2 linked regions of the Homo sapiens genome follow. The protein of the gene in region 1 interacts with the protein of each later gene in a pairwise test. Each region holds a gene or a part of one and is shown on either strand. Other genes may lie near its edges.

Evidence for each region. The genes of interacting proteins can lie anywhere in the genome.
Region 2: the proteins of BPIFA1 (region 1) and TFG interact in binary tests that used the Homo sapiens proteins (3 or more experiments, as listed by UniProt).

The regions. Positions count from the first base shown.
Region 1 is NC_000020.11:33,240,400-33,244,489, forward strand, and holds the end of BPIFA1 (BPI fold-containing family A member 1 precursor), read left to right. Parts: intron 1-985; coding exon 986-1,070; intron 1,071-1,656; coding exon 1,657-1,720; intron 1,721-2,087; coding exon 2,088-2,128; 3' UTR 2,129-2,162; exon of another isoform or gene 2,163-2,270; intron 2,271-2,685; exon of another isoform or gene 2,686-2,707; 3' UTR 2,708-2,907; downstream 2,908-4,090.
Region 2 is NC_000003.12:100,715,125-100,720,308, forward strand, and holds part of TFG (protein TFG), read left to right. Parts: intron 1-4,850; coding exon 4,851-4,934; intron 4,935-5,184. UniProt on the Homo sapiens protein: Plays a role in the normal dynamic function of the endoplasmic reticulum (ER) and its associated microtubules. Required for secretory cargo traffic from the endoplasmic reticulum to the Golgi apparatus.

The DNA of each region.
Region 1 (4,090 bases):
GCAGCTTATCCTGCCCAGAGATGACAGGGTGTGATGCCGGATGGATGATTGGAAAGCTGAGACAATGAGAGAATAGATGAGTGAGAGGCTGAAAGGGTGGGAAAATGGATGGGAAGGAGGGAGCGTGGAAAGATGGATGGATGGATGGATGGATGGATGGATGGATGGATGGATGGATGGACAGATGGTTAGATGGTTGGGTTGATGGAGAGAAGGATGAATAGATAGATGGATGGATAGATAGATGATAGATAGATAGATAGATAGATAGATAGATAGATAGATAGATAAAGTAGTACTTATTCCTTCTTAGACCAAGCTAACCAATTTTATGCTGGATCTAGCAACAAGAAATTGGAGTTTAAGCCCTGCATATTACAGGGGAATGGGGATAGAGGGCTTCCTGTGTGAACCTGGGTAGTGCTTCTCCAATTTAGTTCTAAGCTTACTTATCTGCAATATGGAACTGCACTGGAGTTATTGATAGAACCTACCAAGATAACAGGTGTGAAAGTGCTTTGTCCCAGTAAGGGGTAAAATAGACGTGGATCCTAACTAGGTTATTTATTTCAGTTACCTGTCACATGGGGAGACTGTGTCAAACCTATTACGCAAAAGTTGCCCACGTGGTTAACTTTTAATGAACACATACATTGGGCTTCACATGTGTCATCTCATTGGATCATAATGACAACTACATACTAAGTAGTATCCATTCATTTATGGACTCTGCAAAGCCTTATTGGCACCTGCTTTTTCTGAGAACCATGTGTTTATCCTACACATACCTGTGTGTTCACTGCTGTACACAAATGTAACTCCCTTTACATAAGACCCTTGCTGTTGGCCTGCACGTGGGTGTAGATAGACAAGGCTCGGCTTTAGTGACTGAGTGTTGAGACTGTGGGGTTCACAGTGGCCCCCTCTGGAGACTTCTCCACACCATCTCCAGGTCCCTGCATCACCCATGACTTTTCTCTTTCAGACTTGGCCCCCTCCCCATTCAAGGTCTTCTGGACAGCCTCACAGGGATCTTGAATAAAGTCCTGCCTGAGTTGGTTCAGGGCAACGTAAGTAGGCAAGGTGGGGATCCCCTGATCCTCAGGTTTTAGAGCTTCTTGCACTAAAACAAAGCCCTGAGCTAAGTGGGTCCGAGTCCCTCAATTTGATAAGTAACTTCCATTCATCAATCTATTTGTCCATTGATCCATCTGTCCATGTTTCTTCTTTACATCTTTCCAAATGCATTGATGAGTCTCTGCTCTAGGCCAGGCCCTGCTTGTCCACACTGAAGCTGAAATGGATTGGCCCCTGTTCTGAGAAATTGGAGAAGTTCCCTGTCCAGCCTTCTATGGCCACAGACAGTCTTTCAACCTATGCTTGGGTGTCTCCTATAACCAGGGCACTCCACTCCACTTAGAATCAGATGTGATGTCACAGGGTGAACACTGGGCTTGTTGTGTGATTTGGGGCCCTTCACAACATCCCTCATGCCTCCAGTTTCTCCTCAGGCATGTGTGACCATTGATCTGTGGGATTGCTTAGAATCACTTTCACACAGAAAAATGACAGGAAATTTCCCCAGAGAACCCCCACTAGGGATTCTGCTGCTCCAGGGTGCCACTCTGCCTAACTCTCCTCTCTGCCCCTGGCCAGGTGTGCCCTCTGGTCAATGAGGTTCTCAGAGGCTTGGACATCACCCTGGTGCATGACATTGTTAGTAAGTACCTGCTTTCAAGCCCTCTGTCCCTCTCTGCAGGAGCAGCAACTTCCCCCAAGGAGTTTTTTCCCTGCACACCCTAGGATACTAGGTCCCTCTGGCCTCAACTCTCTCTATTTTGGGCTTCATTTTCCCCCGAATAATCCAGATAATTTTGAGATAGACACCGTGTCTCCTGCCTCAGCCCTGACACTGAGGACAGCTGGGCTGGTTGGTAGAAGGAGGCCTGGCTTCCTCCAAGCATGCTGAACACAGTCGGATCTCCAGAGGCCTCCATTCCCTGGCCCCCCACCTTGAGGAATATGGACTCCTTCACGTTGAGATCATAACTGTCGTCTGTTTTTTTATTGCTTGTTTGTTTGTTTAGACATGCTGATCCACGGACTACAGTTTGTCATCAAGGTCTAAGCCTTCCAGGAAGGGGCTGGCCTCTGCTGAGCTGGTAAGTGCCCTTCCCCACACCCCAGGGTTTTGGGGGCTGGCTGTTCTTCTCCTGGTAGAAGGCAGACGGGAGCTTGGGACAATGACATCCAAAGAAAGAGACAAACATCTACAGAGGTACACACAGGGATGCACAGAGAAATCCACAGAAAAGCTGACAGAGGTGGAAGGATGCAGGCAGCACAGCAACACAGCTACCAAGAGAAACACACACACAAATGCCCAGACACATGGCCACTGATACAGATGCACACACTCTCACACCAGCACACTCACACACATGCACACATTGGTGGACTCACCACACACAGACACACACACTCTCACCCAGCACCCTCACACATATGCACACATCAGTGGACTCACCACACATAAGTACACGTGGATACACAGACACACTCACTCAAACACATGCTCACAGAGCCCTGACTCCAGGCCTGATGGCTTGCCCAGGGTCTCAGCCTCCTCCTGTCCCTCTGGGGCATGAGTTTGATGATGAGTCAATATCAGTAACGCTCACTGACCTTGAGTCTCCATCCTGATTAGGGTCTTCCCCCAACAGAACTATTTCTTGCTGCTCAATCCATTTCCTCTGGCCCAGCTTCCCAGTGCTCACAGATGGCTGGCCCATGTGCTGGAAGATGACACAGTTGCCTTCTCTCCGAGGAACCTGCCCCCTCTCCTTTCCCACCAGGCGTGTGTAACATCCCATGTGCCTCACCTAATAAAATGGCTCTTCTTCTGCATCAGGGGCCTTGTCATCCTTCACCATTACTTGAGGGCTCCTGGGTTGGAAACAGCCCTGGCCTGGGTGGTTGGGCCCATAGCATAGAGTTTGGCACTTACTTTGTAGATCTGAATAGTCTTGAGCAGGTCAGGGAGATGTTCAAGTGTGTGTGGATTTCAGAAGGCTTTCCCAGGTGTCCTTAGAAAGGGGGAATAAGGCATTCAGGGTAGATATAATACTCCAGGTACAGTTAATGACATACAAGTTTGCCGCACCACGAATGAAAATGGCAGATTTGTGTTAGGGAAATGCAAATTAGAACTACAATGAAGGCCAGGTGCCGTGACTCCCGTCTGTAATCCCAGCACTTTGGAAGGCCAAGACAGGCAGATCAGTTAAGGGCAGAAGTTCAAGACCAGCCTGACTGACATGGCAAAACCCTATCTCTACCAAAAATACAAAAATTAGCCAGGGGTGGTGGTGTGTGCCTGTGGTCCCAGCTACTCGAGAGGCTGAGGTGAGAGAATTGTTTAAGCCCAGGATGTGGAGGTTGCAGTGAGGCAAGATCATGCCACTGCATTCCAGTCTGGGTGACAAAGTGAGACCCTATCAAAAAAAAAATTAAATTTAATTTTTAGAAACACCCAGTAAAATGTCATCTCACACCAGTCAGAACAGCTATTATTAAAAGGTCAAAAAATAGCAGGTGCCAACGAGGTTGCAGAGAAAAGGAATGCTTATACTGCTGGTGGGAATGTAAATTAGCTCAGCCACTGTGGAAAGCAGTCAGGAGATTTTTTAAAGAACTTAAAACAGAACTACCATTCGACCTGGCAATCCCATTACTGGGTGTATACCCAAAGGAATATAAATCCTTCTACCAAAAAGACACACACACATTCATTGCAGCACCATTCACAATAGCAAAGACATAGAATCAACCTAGATGCCCATCAGTGATGGACTGGATAAAGAAAATATGGTACATATACACCATGGAATACTACACAGTTGTTAAAAAATGAGATCATGGCCTTTGCAGCAACATGGATGCAGCTGGAGGCAATTATCCTAAGTGAATCAATGAAGGAACAGAAAATCAAGTCTCTCGTGTTCTCACTTACAAGTGAGAGCTAAACATTGAGTACACATGGACACAAAGAAGGAAGTAATACACACCAGACCTATCTGAGGGTAGAAGG
Region 2 (5,184 bases), on another chromosome or scaffold:
TCACTAACAGTTTTTTCTCTGTCTGTGTTAGGGTTGGGCTTAAAGTAATGCCAGCAGATATAATAGAAATCTTAAAATCTGAGTGGTTTAATAGTTGAGAAATCTTTCAGGGATCCAGGTTGAAAGAAGCTGTTACCTTCAACACATGGCTTATAAGCTCACCATAGGCATTGACATTGGCAAGCAGATGAGTGAAGACAGAGTATGAAGAATCATATGGGAGATTTTACTCACTAGGCCTGATGGTGTTGTATGTCATTTCTGCCCTTATGACATTGGTCAGTACCCAGTTACATGGCTTTGCTAAGATGCAAATGGGTTGGGAAGTATAGTCCCTGGCTGAGCAGCCACTTAGCACAACTTATACTGTGGAGGAGAAGTGTAAATCACTGGTGATCAGTTAAATTGACCATCTAGCTAAAGGTATAATTCTCCTTTGTTTTTGTGATGTGTAGTCTAAGAATACCCAAAACAAATTTTTGAGAGTTGCCCATGTTAAGAAACAATAAAGGATAGTACTTTTTTCCTGTTTTCTTATGCTTATCATACATTGATTTGCACCTCTGTGACTTTGAAATGTGTGTCTTAATTTGATCAGTGAATTTTTTTTTTTTTTGAGACAGGGTCTCACTCTCATCCAGGCTACAGTGCAGTGGCATGATTATAGCTCATCATAACCTTTAACTCCTGTCCCCAGGCAATACTGCCAACCCGGCCTCCCAAAGGCATAAGCCACCATGCCCAGCCTACAATTCAGATTTTTAACTTTTTTTTTTTTTTAGCAAAGTCCCAAGAGTACTTTTTTTTTTAAATTTTGTTTTAATTGACAAATAATAATTGTACATATTTATGGGGTACATAGTAATGTTTCATTACATATAATGGGATTAGATCAGGGTAATTCGCATATCCATCACCTCAAATATTTATTTCTTTGGGTTAGAAACATTCAATATTCTCCTTCTAGCTATTTGAAATTATATAATATGTTATTGTTAACTGTAGTCATCCTATAGTGCTATAGAACACTGGAACTACTTCTATCTAGTTGTACTTTTGTGTCTTTTAATAAATCTCTCCCTATCCCTCTTTTCCCCTACCCTTTGCAGCCTCTACTGTCATCTGTTCTGCTTTTTACTTGTATAAGATCAACTTTTTTTAGCTTCCACATATGAGAGAGAGCATGTGGTATCTTTTTAACTTAATGTCTTCCAGTTCCATCCATGTTGCTGTGAATGACAGGACTTCATTCTTTTTTATGGCTGAATTGTATTCCATTGTGTATATATACCATATTTTCTTTATCAGTTAATCTGTTGTTAGACACTTAGGTTGATTCCATATCTTGACTATTGTGAATAGTGCTGCAGTAAAATGTGAGTGCAGATTTCTCTTCAATATACTGGTTTCCTTTCCTTTAGTTAAATATTCAGTAGTGGCATCGCTGAATTGTGTGTTAGTTCGATTTATAGTTTTTTGAGGAACCTTCATACTGTTCTCCCTAGTGGCTGTACTGTTGACATTCCTACCAATAATGTGTAAGAGTTCCCTTTTCTCTTCATTCTTGCCAGCATTTGTTATTTATCTTTTTGATAATAACCATCCTAACTGGGGTGAACCTTGTTGTGGTCTTCATTTTCCTGATATGTGTGCATTTCCCTGATGATTTGTGATTTTGAGCATTTTTTCATATATTTATTGACCATTTCTATGTCTTTTTTTGAGAAATGTCTGTTCAGATCATTTGCCGATTTTAAAATCGGATTGATTGTTTTTTAGCTGTTGAGATGTTTGAGTTCCTTCTATATTCTGAATATTCATCCTCTGCCAGATGAGTAGTTGTATTTCCTCCCATTCTGTAAGTTCTCTTTTCACTCTTGATTGTTTCCTTTGCTGTGCAGAAAAGTTTTCCAGTTTGAGATAATCATATTTATTTTTGCTTTTATTGACTGCACTTTTGAGGTCTTATTCATGAAATCTTTTCCCGACCTATTAAAGAGGTTATCCTTTTCCTAATGAGTGGTCTTGTCAAAAGTCAGTTGGCTATAGATAACATGGATTATGTTCTTTTGTTCTATGTGTTCTATTGATCTATGTGTTTGTTCTCTTGGTCAATGGGTCTGTTTTTATGTCAGTTCTGTTGGTCTGTGGGTCCGTTTTTGTGCCAGTCCATGCTTATTACAGCTTTGTAGTATATTTTGAGGTCAGTAAGTGTGACACCTTCAGCTTTGTTCTTTGCTCAGTATTGCTTTGACTGTCTGGGGTTGTATGTAGTTCTGTACAAATTTTATGGTTTGTTTTTAAATTTTTATGAATAATTTTATTGGTAGTTTGATAGGGATTGAATTGAATCTGTAAATTGCTTTGAGTAATTTTGTCATTTTAACAATATTTGTTCTTATATAAGCATGGGATGTCATTACATATGTATGCTCTTTGGTTTCTTTCATCAGTGTTTTTTTTTTTTTTTGTAGAGGTTTTTCATCTTCTTGGTTAAACTGCTTCCTAGATATTTAAAAAAATTTTTGTAGCTGTGGTTAATGGGATTGCATTTTTTATTTTTTATTGTATGTGTATAGAAACACTACTTATTTTTGTGTACTTATTTTGTTTCTGGCAGCTTTATTGAATTCATTTATTGGTTCTAAGGGTTTTGGTAGAGTTTTTAGGTTTTTGTTTATATAAGATTATGTCATCTGCAAACAGGGACAGTTTGCTTCCTTCCCAATTTGGATACCTTTTATTTTTTTCTCTTGCATAATTGCTCTGGCTAGTACTTGCTTAACTGTCTTTTTTTTATTTTTTATTTTTTTGTCTTGAGACAGGGTCTTGCTCTGTCTCCCAAGCTGGAGCGCAGTGGTGTGATCATGGCTCATTGAAGCCTTGAACTCCTGGGCTCAAGCAGTCCTTGCAACTCAGCCTCCCGTGTAGCTGGGACTGCAGGCATGTGCCACTGCACTCAGCTTCTTATTCTTAATGTTTATCAAAATGGGGGTCTCACTGTGTTGCCCAGGCTGGTCCTGAACTCCTGGGCTCAAGCGATCCTCCTGCCTTGGCCTGCCAAAGTACTGAGATTACAGGCATGAGCCAGTGTGCCTGGCCTTTAACTGCCTTTTTTCCCACTTGAAGATGCTTTGCCTTTATCTCAAACTGACCTCATTGACTGGCTTTCTCTTAACTACTGTTTAGGGCAAAGGTCAGCAAACATTTTCTTTAATAGATCAGAGAGAATAAATATTGTAGCTTTGTGGGTCACATAAGGCCTCTGTCTCATCTTTTTTTTACAATGTAAAAACCATTTTTCATTCACAGACCTATAACAACACAGGGATTTTGTCCGTTGGTCACAGTTCATGGACCCTTAGCTTGAGGTGTCCTCGTTGTAGTTTGTCTTCCACATTTAGTTACAACTTTGTATTTCATGGTTTTTTTTTTTTTTTTTTTTTTTTTTGAGACAAAGTCTTGCTTTGTCGTTTAGGCTGGAGTACAGTGGGGTGATCTTGGCTCACTGCAGCCTCCACATCCCAGGTTCAAGTGATTCTCCTGCCTCGGCCTCCCAAGTAGCTGGAATTATAGGCACACACCACCACACTCGGCTGATTTTTGTATTTTTAGTAGAGACGGAGTTTCTCCATGTTGGCCAGGCTGGTCTCGAACTCCTGACCTCAGGTGATCCGCCCACCTCAGCCTCCCAAACTGCTGGGATTACAGGTGTGAGCCACCGCACTTGGCCAAAAAGTTTTTGATTGTTTTGATTTGTGTCCGTTAGATTCTGTTAGTAGAGTGGAGGGATGGCTTAGGTAAAGTTCCTGCCATCAGAGATACTCTGTTTCTGTTGTAGGATTCAGAAAAGAAAAAAAGAACAGGAAGTTTTCTTCTTTTACATACATACTTTATTTTCTTTAAAAAATGTGTTTATGAAAATTGAACATTAAACAAGTATGTTATGGGAAGTGGGTCTGGCTATAAGGAGCTAAAAACAGTTATAAAATTCTCAGTTTTGTCATCTTTGCCCAAAATAAATCCAACTAATTAGTGTTAAAGTAGGTGCAGCAGAGCATCCCAGAAGTAGTCTTGTGGCCTCCCCAGGACAGAACTCCTCCCCACCCAACTGTTTGTGAAGACACCCTGCAGAGGTCCCTGATGAACTCCTTGTCTCTGGCTGCTTTTCTGTTCTTGCTTTCTTTAGAGAATGTATTTTTCCCTTAGCCCTTTGAAAGCTTTTGAGACACACAGTTGGTATGCCAATTATAGCATTCTTTATCCCTGAGATCTGGGGGATTTCACGGTCATAAATACACACTGTTTTGAATATATAAATATTTTTCTGGGGAGAGTTGATTGTTTTCATCTTAATATCAAAATGGTCAGTGACCTGAAAGAATTTACTGTCTATCCATTCATTAAAGCAGTTTTGCAACAGTAGTGTTTTACTCTACCTATGATTAAGATTTGAACTTTGGGAAACTTTTTTATTTCTTGGTAAAAGATGTAAATTTTTTGGAATGAAAAGATTTCAGTCTAAACCAACAATTTATGATATTGCTCTCTATGAATCTCTTACTAGTGACTAATAAATATTAAGGCACTTAATGGATTCACTTTAGCTGTATTTTTTCATGTGGATATGTGTAAATACCTTGCCATAAGAGTAATAAGCAAAATTGATTTAGTATATTTTTGAACAAATGCATTTTTGCTAGACCTTTAAAGTTTAAGGTTTCTATGGGAGAGTCCAACTATGTTCTACAATCTACATTTTGGATTTTTAATTTTTACTAGTTTACTGCTTATACAAATCTGAAAATTTAAAAAATTAAAAAACAACCTTTTTTTTTTTTAAATTCCAGATGGAGATCTTATAACAATTTTTGATAGTTCTGACCTTTCCTTTGCAATTCAGTGCAGTAGGATACTGAAACTGACATTATTTGGTGAGTAGTAAACTTTCTAATGAATTTACTATTTTATTCATTGTATTTTAAAGATGTTTGGCTTTTTTCCTTTTAAAGACTCAGGTAAGCAATAACTTATTCAAATATTATTACATTTATTTGTGTTCAGGTAGTTGTTTTAGATTACTTGAAGCTTATGGCTGTGTATGTTTTTAAGAAAATGATAGAAGTTTAATTCAGTAAGAACAGAGTGTTAAGTATGTTTTTTTTGAAATCAGGTATAACTTAG